Regions from separate parts of the Homo sapiens genome. Here region 2 is linked to region 1. The links come from fine-mapping of genetic effects on gene expression. A gene starts in region 1. The other region holds a variant in brackets. All regions are shown on one strand. Distances are from middle to middle. Region 1 holds the start of TPRG1 (tumor protein p63 regulated 1). Region 2 has its middle 49 kb from the start of TPRG1.

Region 1 (5,392 bases):
TACAGGGGCCCGCCACTGCGCCCGGCTAATTTTTGTATTTTTAGTAGAGACAGGGTTTCACCATGTTGGCCACGCTGGTCTTGAACTCCTGACCTCAGATGATCCGCTCACCTCGGCCTCCCAAAGTGCTGGGATTACAGGCATGAGCCACCAGGCCCGGCCTGTAAAGGTTATTATAGAAGAGAGAGAAGAGACAGGACACAGAGAGAAATGATCTCTGAAGGCCAATCTGGTAAAAATTATTCTGTGCTTCCCTGCTCCTTGGCTGTTGAGCATGTCCTCTACTGGGAGATCTGTACATAGCCTTTGCTATGCCTGGAAATACAGACATGAAGTGAATTCTTATATATAGCCATATGTTCTGTCATAGTATTGCTTCACATTCATACCAATACTTTGAATTTTACAAAGCTCTTATCACCTCCAGGAGCTCATTTTCTCCCTCAACAGCCCAGGGAGGTTGGTGGGATCTGTACTGTAACTCCCATTGCACGGAAGAGGCAATCAAGGCTTGGGGAAAACTAAGCTACTTGCCTCTGATCCCAGTGAGCAGCTGAGCAGGGACCAGAGCTGAGGTTTTCCGTGTGGCATTACTCCTACTGCTTGTGCCCCTCCTGGATGTATTATGTTACTGCAGGCTGCAGTATGGCGGAGCTCAGCATGAGCTGGGAGGAGTGTTCAGTGGCCGCTGGAAACCTAACGATAATTAGATGGATGCCGTGTGAACAATTGATGTCTTTTCACAGAGTTTCTTGCCCTTTAAAATAGCATACTTCAAACAGCAGTGCATTGCTTAGTCCTTCTCTTAAGAGACCAGGCTGGGATCCAGCATGTCTCCACTCCTCCTGCCTTTTGTGCCCCCACCCTGAGCTGTCATAAAGACATTTGGAGCTGAGTGGGAACGGTATTTGCCTCGCAATTATTTCTAATTGCCCTGTAGTTTTGTGGCGTCTAAGTGGTGTGACCTAGATACCGGTTCTGTAAAACTCTCTTTTCAGCCTGGGGTCTGTATTAGGGAGGGGGCATAAATCAGTTTGATCAGGTAACTGTGGCTGAGTCCATCTCACCAATAACATTTATACCCAACTCTACCATCTGTGCTTGTTGAAATCCTGGCTCTTCTTAACAGCCCGGATCTAATGCCGCCTCCACCGCTGTGCAGCCTTCCTGGAGTTGCTCCCTCCTCTGGATTACCATAGTACTTGTTAGGATCCTGTCTGTGGTGCTCATCATCTTCTATATCGTGCAATGCTAATTCACTTACAAATTTTATCTTCTTGAGCTCCTTATGCCAGAGAATGTGTTTGGTTCCTTTTCATATCCTTGTCTATGTGGATAACTGAGAAAGCTCAAGGTAGTTGCTCAGTTAACTACTGTTGAGTTAGTATACATGACGTCCTCGACACGGTGGAAGCAGGTAAAAGGACTGTTTATTCATTGTGACCTCTCCTGAGTGGCGAGTTGCCAGTTTGCACTTCATTTCCTGTGGAATCGCTTCATGACCTCAGTATTCCTGGAACTTTAAACAACATTTTTTGAAGGGTGAATATTAGTTATTTTTCTTTTAAAAGAATGGAATTCAACCAATTTACTTTGTCAGCGCACACCCGTTCCTCCAGCCATCAAACAAATACAATCTGATTTGGCCAGAGTCTGCTGAATGAAGTAGAGAATTTAGGATAGAAGATTGAAATTCAATCATACACATAACAGCATTTTGTTTTCTGTGCTCTCCTTTCTTTCAGCAATCCACCTACTTGTGCAGTTCATACTTTATTTTATACCAACTCTGTATGTAGAACACACTTGCTTAGGTTTCAGAATGTGTTCATTAAGATTCTATTTCATTTTTTTAGCACCGTTGCTATGTCAAATCTTATCCTAGGTTTATTCTCATATGCTTCCTTTCAAGTTCTATCTGCATTTCTGAAGGAGAAATGATACTCTCAACTTACAGATGACCAAAATTAAAAAACCTCAGAAAGATAGATTATGACTTGCTATAGGCTGCAAAGCCATTAAATGACAGATCAGGATTCACTAAATAGATATTAATGGATCATCATTAATTCAATGTGTATTTATTTATTACCTACTATCTGCTGGGTGTTTTGAGGAGTATATGAGAGAATAAGATGTAGCATTGCCCTCAAGGGGCCCCCCATCTAGGGAGGGGGATACACACTTACATAGAGACAATATCATGTGGCACATTTCCTAATAGGAATACTGACCAGAGATTGTGTGTACATGTGTTTGTTTTCAGAGATACACTGCTCTACATGTCTTCTACATTTTTGACAAGAGTGGTAGTGATGCTTAAAATCACAAATATCCAATAAATCAAGCCATCATAAAGAATATTAATGATAGGAGTGTAGGCCTCAGGCTTAAGCTTAATTATAACTACTTGGAGGCATACAGAAGCCATGGAGGAATGGATGATAGGCTGCTCCTGCTCCCTCAGCTGGATGTGTATTAGAGGGAGTTGGCAGAAAAATGCAGGACTTCTTGAGGGAGAGGACAGGAGGTAAAGGTGTGTCATTGCAGAACAAGAAAGGCCCCACCCACAAACCCAATTCTCTGCCTCTGACGGGTTGAGTTCCACCCTGTAAACATCCTCAGTCCTTTCATTTGACTATTTGAGGGTGGCAGTGTAACTCTCAGCCTACTTGGTGAAGTGAGATTCAGACTGAGTGGGGTCACAGCACAGGGCACTGTCTTGCCTGGCTTTATCTGAGCCAATCACACCTCTCCTGGCCACTATCTGTGGTCTAGCCCCCTTTGTGCAGAAAGAGAAAGAAGAGCCTTGAGGACCAGCCTAGTCAGGTAAGATCAAGTGGCTTGTCACTGGTTCTGCAGAGATGGGTTATTTCTCTATGAACCAATTGCTTCTGTCCCCTAAGCCGAGTTTCTGGTCACCTCCCCCACTGACTTGCAGTTTGGTTTAGGTTTGTAGTTTTGCATTACCATGTGAAATTTCCCTATTCTTCCTTACTGTCCAGGGTTGATGAGGCTTGTAGGCTAGCATTTTTTAGCCTATAAAGCCACTTGACATACTTATCTATATATTGATTTTGATCTTAACTGCCCTATAGTGCAGTAGGATGGGTATAATTTTCTCCATTTGGTGGCTTAGTGAACTGAAGCTTGGTCAATTGAAGTGATTTGTTCCAATTGGATCAGCAGGTTAAGGCCAAGATTAGATTTGATTCCTTCTTCCCTCTTCCTCTATTATAGAACCCAGCAGGTCATACCTTATCCCCAAAAGCCAAAAGAAGTGAAAAGCCTTTCTGAACCGTTAAATGGCAAACAAAAGGTGATTATTTCTTTGCAGGCAGTTTGAGAGGGTTATTTTTGAATTCATCTGAGGGAAATTTCATAATAATATATAGGTCCCATCAAACAGGGCTGTTTTTAGAGAACAAACGAGGGCATGTATGTAAAGGGGAGTTGTAAACTGAAAGGTGATAGGCAAATGAGACAGCGATGACTACTTGGCGCCTGAGACATCCTCCAGATCTCTGTATAAGCAGGTTTTAATTCGGGGCTAAATGACACTCTCCAAATGTCAGAGGCAGCGTAGTGAGGCACAGATCATACAGGCCCTGGGGAAATATTTTAGCTTTTCAGTCACACTGTGGTATGTAGAAAAGCAAATCTCAATGGGGGAAAAACACCCCCAAATCCTTTCAAATACACTCATGCAATTTCCTCTCTTGTGACAGCTATCATAGTATCTCATTGTTCTACAGTTTTAAGGAAATCTCATCTTCAGTTATTATGTAGTTTACTTTTTAAGATGCTAATTTTAGCTATCATTTTTCTTTTCATGCTCAAAAGGTTATATCATTCTTAGTTGTGGAAGGAAATGTTTCCTCTGTGTGTGTGTGCATGTGTGTATGTGTGTGTGTGTCTGTTTGAGTTTATTATGACAGTACTGATAGTCATCCCTTGGGGCCACCACAAATGCATTGGGTTGTAATGCTATATAATCTTTGGCAGACTTCTATATATTCTTTTTCTTTCTTTTCTTCTTCTTTTTTTTTTTTTTTGAGACAGAGCCTTGCTCTGTTGCCCAGGCTGGAGGGTAGTGGCGCGATCTCGGCTCACTGCAGCCTCCACCTCCCGGGTTCAAGCGATTCTCCTGCCTCAGCCTCCTGAGTAGCTGGGATTACAGGCATGCACCACCACACCTGGCTAGTTTTTGTATTTTTAGTAGAGACGGGGTTTCACCATGTTGGTCAGGCTGGAACTTCTATATATTCTTGGTGTCTTTCTGGCTGTAAGGATCCTGAAGAAATCGTTTAATTGATTACTTTATTCAAAACAGAGAAACTGAGGCCCAGAAAGATGAAGTGATATGCACAAGTCACACAGCCAGTATCATTGGAGCTGCAAGTCACATATGGGTCTCTTACTCTTTCATTGCCCACAATATGTAGTGAATGGTGCTAGGAGTCCCAAGCAGAAGCATTAGCCATGTCATTTTGGAGACTGTAACTAGATGTCCTTTAAGATTTCTTCCAATTAAGAGTTTTAGGGCACTTTGACCTTTGCTTAGCATCTACTGGAGATGGTATCATGCCCTTTAGAGCAGGGAAATCTGTCAGAGAAGCCTCTCTCTTTATTGACTTGGTTCTTCTGGAATATTTGCTTCGGCCAAATGTTGGAGCTGCTCCTTAGGTATAAGATGGGGAGATGGGCAAGAGGTGGTGGCATCTTCATTTTCTTCAGCCTGTCTGGATTTTTATATTTTCTGGGATCTTCCTAAATAAGTGCCACTCAGTTTGATCCTTTTAAAACTTGAAGTGATAGTTGATATTTTACTCAACATTGTTTAATCTAATGGCAGCGTCAAGTCCGAGAATTCATTTACTCCAGAGCTTGCAGAGCAGCAGCCACAGGTGAATCCAGCATGCAGATGTGCTTTGTTTGTGCTGCCATGTTAAACAAGATAAAACTAGTTCCAAAGTATTTGATATCTAGGAAATTTCCTGTAAAAAATCCAGATATCTTGTTTTCAGGAAGATCAGGAGATCTGATAATAATGGACCCACATCCCCTCATGGATAACACCTGTGCTGGGGCCGGGCAGCAACTTCTTCCTGTAGATAGAACATGTTTTCCCCCATCCTCCACAGCTCCCATTTTACCTGATTTAGGCTACCAAGTGTTTGAATTTTCCACTTCTGATCTCTTCCAATCTCTTAGGTATTAGGATTCCTTTCAATCATTCTCTTTCAACGGAAACCTAGTTCTACATAATGACAGACCAGGCTACAGGTTAATGGCACCAGGGAAGAGGTGAAGTTAATTATTTGTTCCTAACCTCTCACTATGTAAGAGATATAGGATATATGATGACTTCAGTAGAACATACCGTTGGCTC
Region 2 (5,392 bases), 49 kb before region 1:
GAGGGCATCATTAACTGTGCCCCAAACTAAAACATACTAAACGAACAAACCCCAAACAAATATCAGTATCTGTCAGAGGCAGTGGCAATGACCACTATGCTAGGAATGCATTTTAAAATTAGGGTGGGGAGGCTGTGTTGTTTGCAATCCAGTGCTTAACTGGCTCAAAATAGAGTTGGGAATTTTTAGAGCTTTAATATGCTAGATGAAAGAAAACAAGTGACATGATGACTAGAACCGCCACCACTGAATTTTCTAAACTTTAAGAAAAGGCAAGAAAATTGCTTTTAGAAGAAGAGAAGTTGAGAATATGCCCCAGTGAATCCTCCCCACCTGCAGTTATGGTAAATGTCTTTGTTTCAATTAATCTAATGATAATATATTTCATTCTCAGTAAGTTCCAAGATGTAGATTCTGGACAAAGAGTCTGGCATACTGGAAAGGAAAAAATATGTGAATCTTTGGGTCAGTGGTTCATTGAAGAATACTGACATTTAAAAAAATGCTTATAATAATGTGTGTTAAGTGCTATGAGAAAGATATGTGATACAGTGTATTTTGAATTCACATAAATGGAACATCCAACCAGACTTTGAAGGCCAGGAAAGTTGTCCAGAGAAAAGTAATGTCTAGGATTAATCCTAAAAGATGACTGAGGGTTGGTTGGCTAAATAAGGCTGAACAGCCAAACTGTTAAGAGGGCTCAGGAAATTTCATCTAAATTATAGCTGAAAGGCAAACCTGGTAAACCTCGATATAGGTCAATAAATTTTGGTGTGTGTTTTGAAAATCTTCTAAATTCTTCTCATGGTCACACACCCCATCTGAGACCAGGTCTTGTTAGTATTTCTGCAGTTTCAGAGGAATGTGCAGGAAGTGGGAAAATTTAGATAAATAATAAAGCATTTTATTCAATTAAAATTAAGGACATGTGTGGGAAAGCTAAAGGTAAATTATTAGATGACGCAGTACTACATTGAGCAAAAATCTTCTGTCCCAGAATGTGGTAGGTGAAAATAAAGATACAGATCTCTAAATTTTTATTTTCTTAGAGGATAAAACCAAAACAATTATAGAAAGAGTTTAATTATGAAAGGATTTTGTCAGTTAGGTAGATAAACCTGAGAGTTTGTAGATTTTAGTACCTGAAAAATCTCTTTAGGTAGAGTAAATAATCTAATTTACGTAACAGCCCTTGTGGCAGAGACAATGCCCTGTTTTACCACATCATTTCCTCTTCCTGGATACTCCGGAAGACAATATTTCTCAGCCTCCTTGAGGTTAGGTTAGGACTGAGTTTTATGTGATGGAATTTTGGCCAATGGAATGTGAGTAAAAAACCTTGAGCTCTAAAAAATTTCTGACATATTCTGTACCCCTCCTTCTCTTTTTTATGTTGAATTTGGAAGACAGGATTGTTTATTTTGTAGCTAAAAAGCAGAAGCAACTTGAATCTTTGACTCATAGCTTAGAAGAACCACTGAGTAGAACCAATCTATATCAGACTGTAATTGAACAAGAAGTAAATGTTTGTTGTGCTAAGCTACTGCTATTACTGGAATTATTTGTTCTTGAAGCAGAGCCTGATCTATCCTGACAAATGTACTCTTCCTTCCAGAGGTTTCCCCATGCCCTCTTTTGGACTTGATGGGGGTCATTTGGGACAATAAGGCCTGATAACTCCTTGGACTTAGGAAGCGAGAGAGCAGGAATCAAGAAAAGCTTTTGTGTTTTTTGGTTTGTGTAGAAAATATGATGGATTGAGATAAAATTTTTCAAAATAGGCCCAATGAAGAAGAGCAGATTCAAGGAGTAAAGGTATGATTTTAAATTGGACATGTTATGTTGAAAAGATATTTGGCCTTATATCATGCAGGATCTTGTAATTGCCTTTGAGAGAAAGCAGTGTTTTTATATGTCTAATTTTCTTTAGTATCTAGTATTTATATACAATTTATGTTTGTTGATGGGTTGGTTCCCTTAGCTGTGTGTGTGTGTTTGTGTATGTATGTATGCACACATGCCTAGAATTGCTTTGAGTTGTCTATACATTCACATGAAGTACTAGTAGCTTGTTTAAATGACAATAGTATATTTATATTCCTTCTTTCTTTCACTTTCTCTCCGAC[G/A]TCTTTTCTGAATGTTTTTAGTCAGCATGTTCTTACTCTTTTTAAAGATATTTCTCATTAGGTAGATTGTAAAAGCCAACACCAAATGTTAAATCCAAGTTTGTTACACAAGCAGTTTGGAAGGTCAGAATGATCTCCACAAGATGCATACCAGAAGCTAACTCAATTTTTGATTTTCCCAAATGACTTTTCTTGTGAAATCTGGTTTTCACATCTCCCTATGCTTTTCCCCAATGGCCTGCTTTTATATTTCAAAATATAACCAGGACAAAGTATTTTAGAAAAGTTATTGGTTTTAATTTATCTTTGAAATCTCTTGGATTATTCCTGGGCATTTTTTTCCTAGAAGAGTATTTTGCGTAGCATGGGTATTAAAGGAGTCTTTGTTGACTGGTTAAAAGATCTTAGTTAGTTTGAGCTAGAAGAAAACTTACAGATCATCTAGTCCAACCCTGTCCTTTTATCGTTGTGAAACAAAAGCCCAGATAATTGAAATGTCTTGGCCAAGTTCACAAGGTTAGGCTTAGACCTGCTGCTATTACTAATGATGCTGCTCCCTTATTTATGTGCATAAGTTGTCAGTTTCACAAAGCCATCATTTATCTCATTTGTTCCTACGGTAACTATGTGAGATAAGAAATACAGAGATTATCAGTCCTTTTGGTTTTTTAACAAATGAAAAAATTGAGGCCCGGAGGAACTAAGTCAAATAGTTAGATTATCTTACTCATTTATGCACAAATATTGATTGAGCTCTTATTATGTGCCAGGCACTATTCTAGTTTTGTTCTAAAAACAGGCAAATGCTTTGTCCTCCTTGTATCAGGGAGAATGAAAGTGAAAACGCTCTAATAAATAATAGCTGAAATGAGTGAGCTTGCCTTCTCACTTCAGTCCAGTGGTGTTTTTCTCTACATCTCTGCTAATTAATTAAAACAAATAACATTTCTGGTGGATTGATTAATTCTCCTTTACTGAAGAGAAATAGCCCCTTTAAAGAATTTATCCTGTAAAGCATGCAAAACATTTTAGATGCAGCAATAAAAAGAGGGCTTTAGAGAGTTATATAATTTTATGTGCTCAAGAGAATATGGAGAAACATCAGTACATGTTCCCTTTCTCTCCAGCTTTGAGATTTATGATTGGTCTGTTACAATAATAATAGCTGAATATTGGTGCAAGAAATATATTTGATTCAGTGGGTAACATTTGACAGCCTTAACTTGTGAAATGTAGAAAAGTTCTTGCAGGAAGCTCCGGCAGAATGTGTAATGTACAAGAAGGTATTCAGGGAACAGAAAAATAAAATGAAAGGAACCTGCTACCCAATCTGTTTCATTAAATATGAAAATTAAAATGCCTTAACAAAATGCTTTCTCTTCCTCTCTCCTCCCAACAAACAAAAGCTTTGGTAGGCAGCCTGAAATTGCTCATCAAGGAAAAAGACCAGACTCGGATTTTAAATGGCTTCTTCTGAATGAAGCAATTAATGCTAAAAGGAACATGTTGTCTTATCAGCATTTATAAGGTACAACATTCATTGTACTTGCTGGCACTCTATCAAGTCTCTCCTTGGCCTAAGCGAGTAGAGAAATGCTTTGCTGCGTGTGCTCTTGACCTCTGGTAATCGGGAGGATTTGGCTGATAAACTTGACAGGAGTGATTCTCCCTGGGACTGGAAATGTGCCCGGGAAATGTGCTCTGGAGTCTCTCTCGCTCAGACCCTGGCCAGCCAGCCGTGGCAGGCCCATCAAGGCTGGCAACTCACCTATTTGCCAATTAGAGGTGGTACTGCTGTATGATTGTTTAGGATTTGAAATGCATTAGAGTAATGCAGCAGAGTCTTGTCTTTACTTCGTTGTACGTGTTCTGATTATTCAGCTTTTTCAGGTAATATTTTAAGAATATTACCTTCTTAAAGTTACTTATTATTCATTGACTCACTAATTCACGTGTTCATTCAGAGCACATGAATTAATGAGTTCCAGTGTGCCAGAGACAGCTTTGGGGAGGCTCTGGAGTAGGTACACAGAATAAGACATGGTGCTTGTCTTTAAGGAGCCTCAGTCTAACGGAAGAAGCAGGCAGAGAAATTCCTTGTGGCAATAAAACATAGTGGCTTAGAAAAGAAGCATATTTAAAGTGCAAGGGGAGCTCAGAAGGGGTGACAAAAGCTCCATCCTGTATGGTGATTTAAAGCAATGGCTTTCAAACTGTACTGTGACAACCCTGGGAGATGGGGAAAGTGAAAGACATAGATTAACAAGAGAGTTTAGATTATTCTTCTGCTAGATCCCCTCAGAAGAAGGGCTTTCTCTTTTGTTTCACGTATACATATTATGACATTTTTTTTAAGAACAAAGGACTTTGTGTGTGTGTGTGTGTATATATATATACACACACACACATACGTGTACATATATTAATATAGCTTTTCTTCATTAACTCATTTAATACTCTAATAATCTTGGCAGCAGGAGGCAATGTCCTCTCCACTTTATGTATGAGGAAACTATTTATCTTACATGAACATTTGTTATTTCATGGGCATTGCTAAAAATAGTAATCTTTATTTTTTCCTCCATAAAACCAAACTACTGAAATATTTTCACATTCAATTTGGGAAGGTCCACTACTGGCATGGAGCAAGATAAGAAATTGTTCAATGGGTAAATGATGGCAGAGTCTAGACCTATCTTTCTATACAATAACCCATGTTAAATAAATCCAAACTTTTAATTTATTAGCTTGAAAGTTAAATAAACTTTTGACCAAAGTAGTATTAGATCTTGCAATGAGATCTTAAGTGATTTACTTTAATCTGTTCTACCTTCAATTTAGTAGGTAATCTTTTAGGTCTCTCTTCGCTCTGAATGTTTGCTTTTACTTCTTGTTTTCCAATATTGGATGATTTATTTAATTAATTTCTAGGCAACTACATAAAAAAGTCTGCTTATACTCAGACAAAAAGTTTTCTTATTGTTTTTAATGTTTACTTTAAGATAATAATGTAGCATTGGAAGGGAAACCTGTATTATAGAGTCAGAGCAAGTCAAATCCTTGTTGTTCCACAAACAAGACATATAACCTCGGGCAAGTTTCTTTTTCTCCCTTGGCTTCAGTATTCTCAGGTGTCAAATGGAGATATTAATCCCAGTTAACCTCCCGTATTGTTTTTGAGGATCAAAAGAAATGATATAATAGAAATTACACAGTGAATTTATAAAGTACTACATTAAATGAAGGTGCTTATTATTTACTGA

The links. PIP is the estimated chance that this variant, and not a neighbour inherited with it, causes the effect. A credible set is the group of variants that fine-mapping cannot tell apart.
Region 2: its variant is the best candidate, but not a certain one, in a credible set for the expression of TPRG1 in whole blood (INTERVAL, PIP 0.57).

What each region holds. Positions count from the first base shown.
Region 1 is chr3:189,169,303-189,174,694 of GRCh38, forward strand. TPRG1 (tumor protein p63 regulated 1) reads left to right here and starts at 2,669. Exons shown (of 6, transcript NM_198485.4): 1 at 2,669-2,829.
Region 2 is chr3:189,120,044-189,125,435 of GRCh38, forward strand. It overlaps a transcript of TPRG1 not described here. Among named protein-coding and RNA genes, the nearest start is that of TPRG1, 49 kb to the right of the region's middle. The variant G/A (reference allele first, on the strand shown) is at 2,130.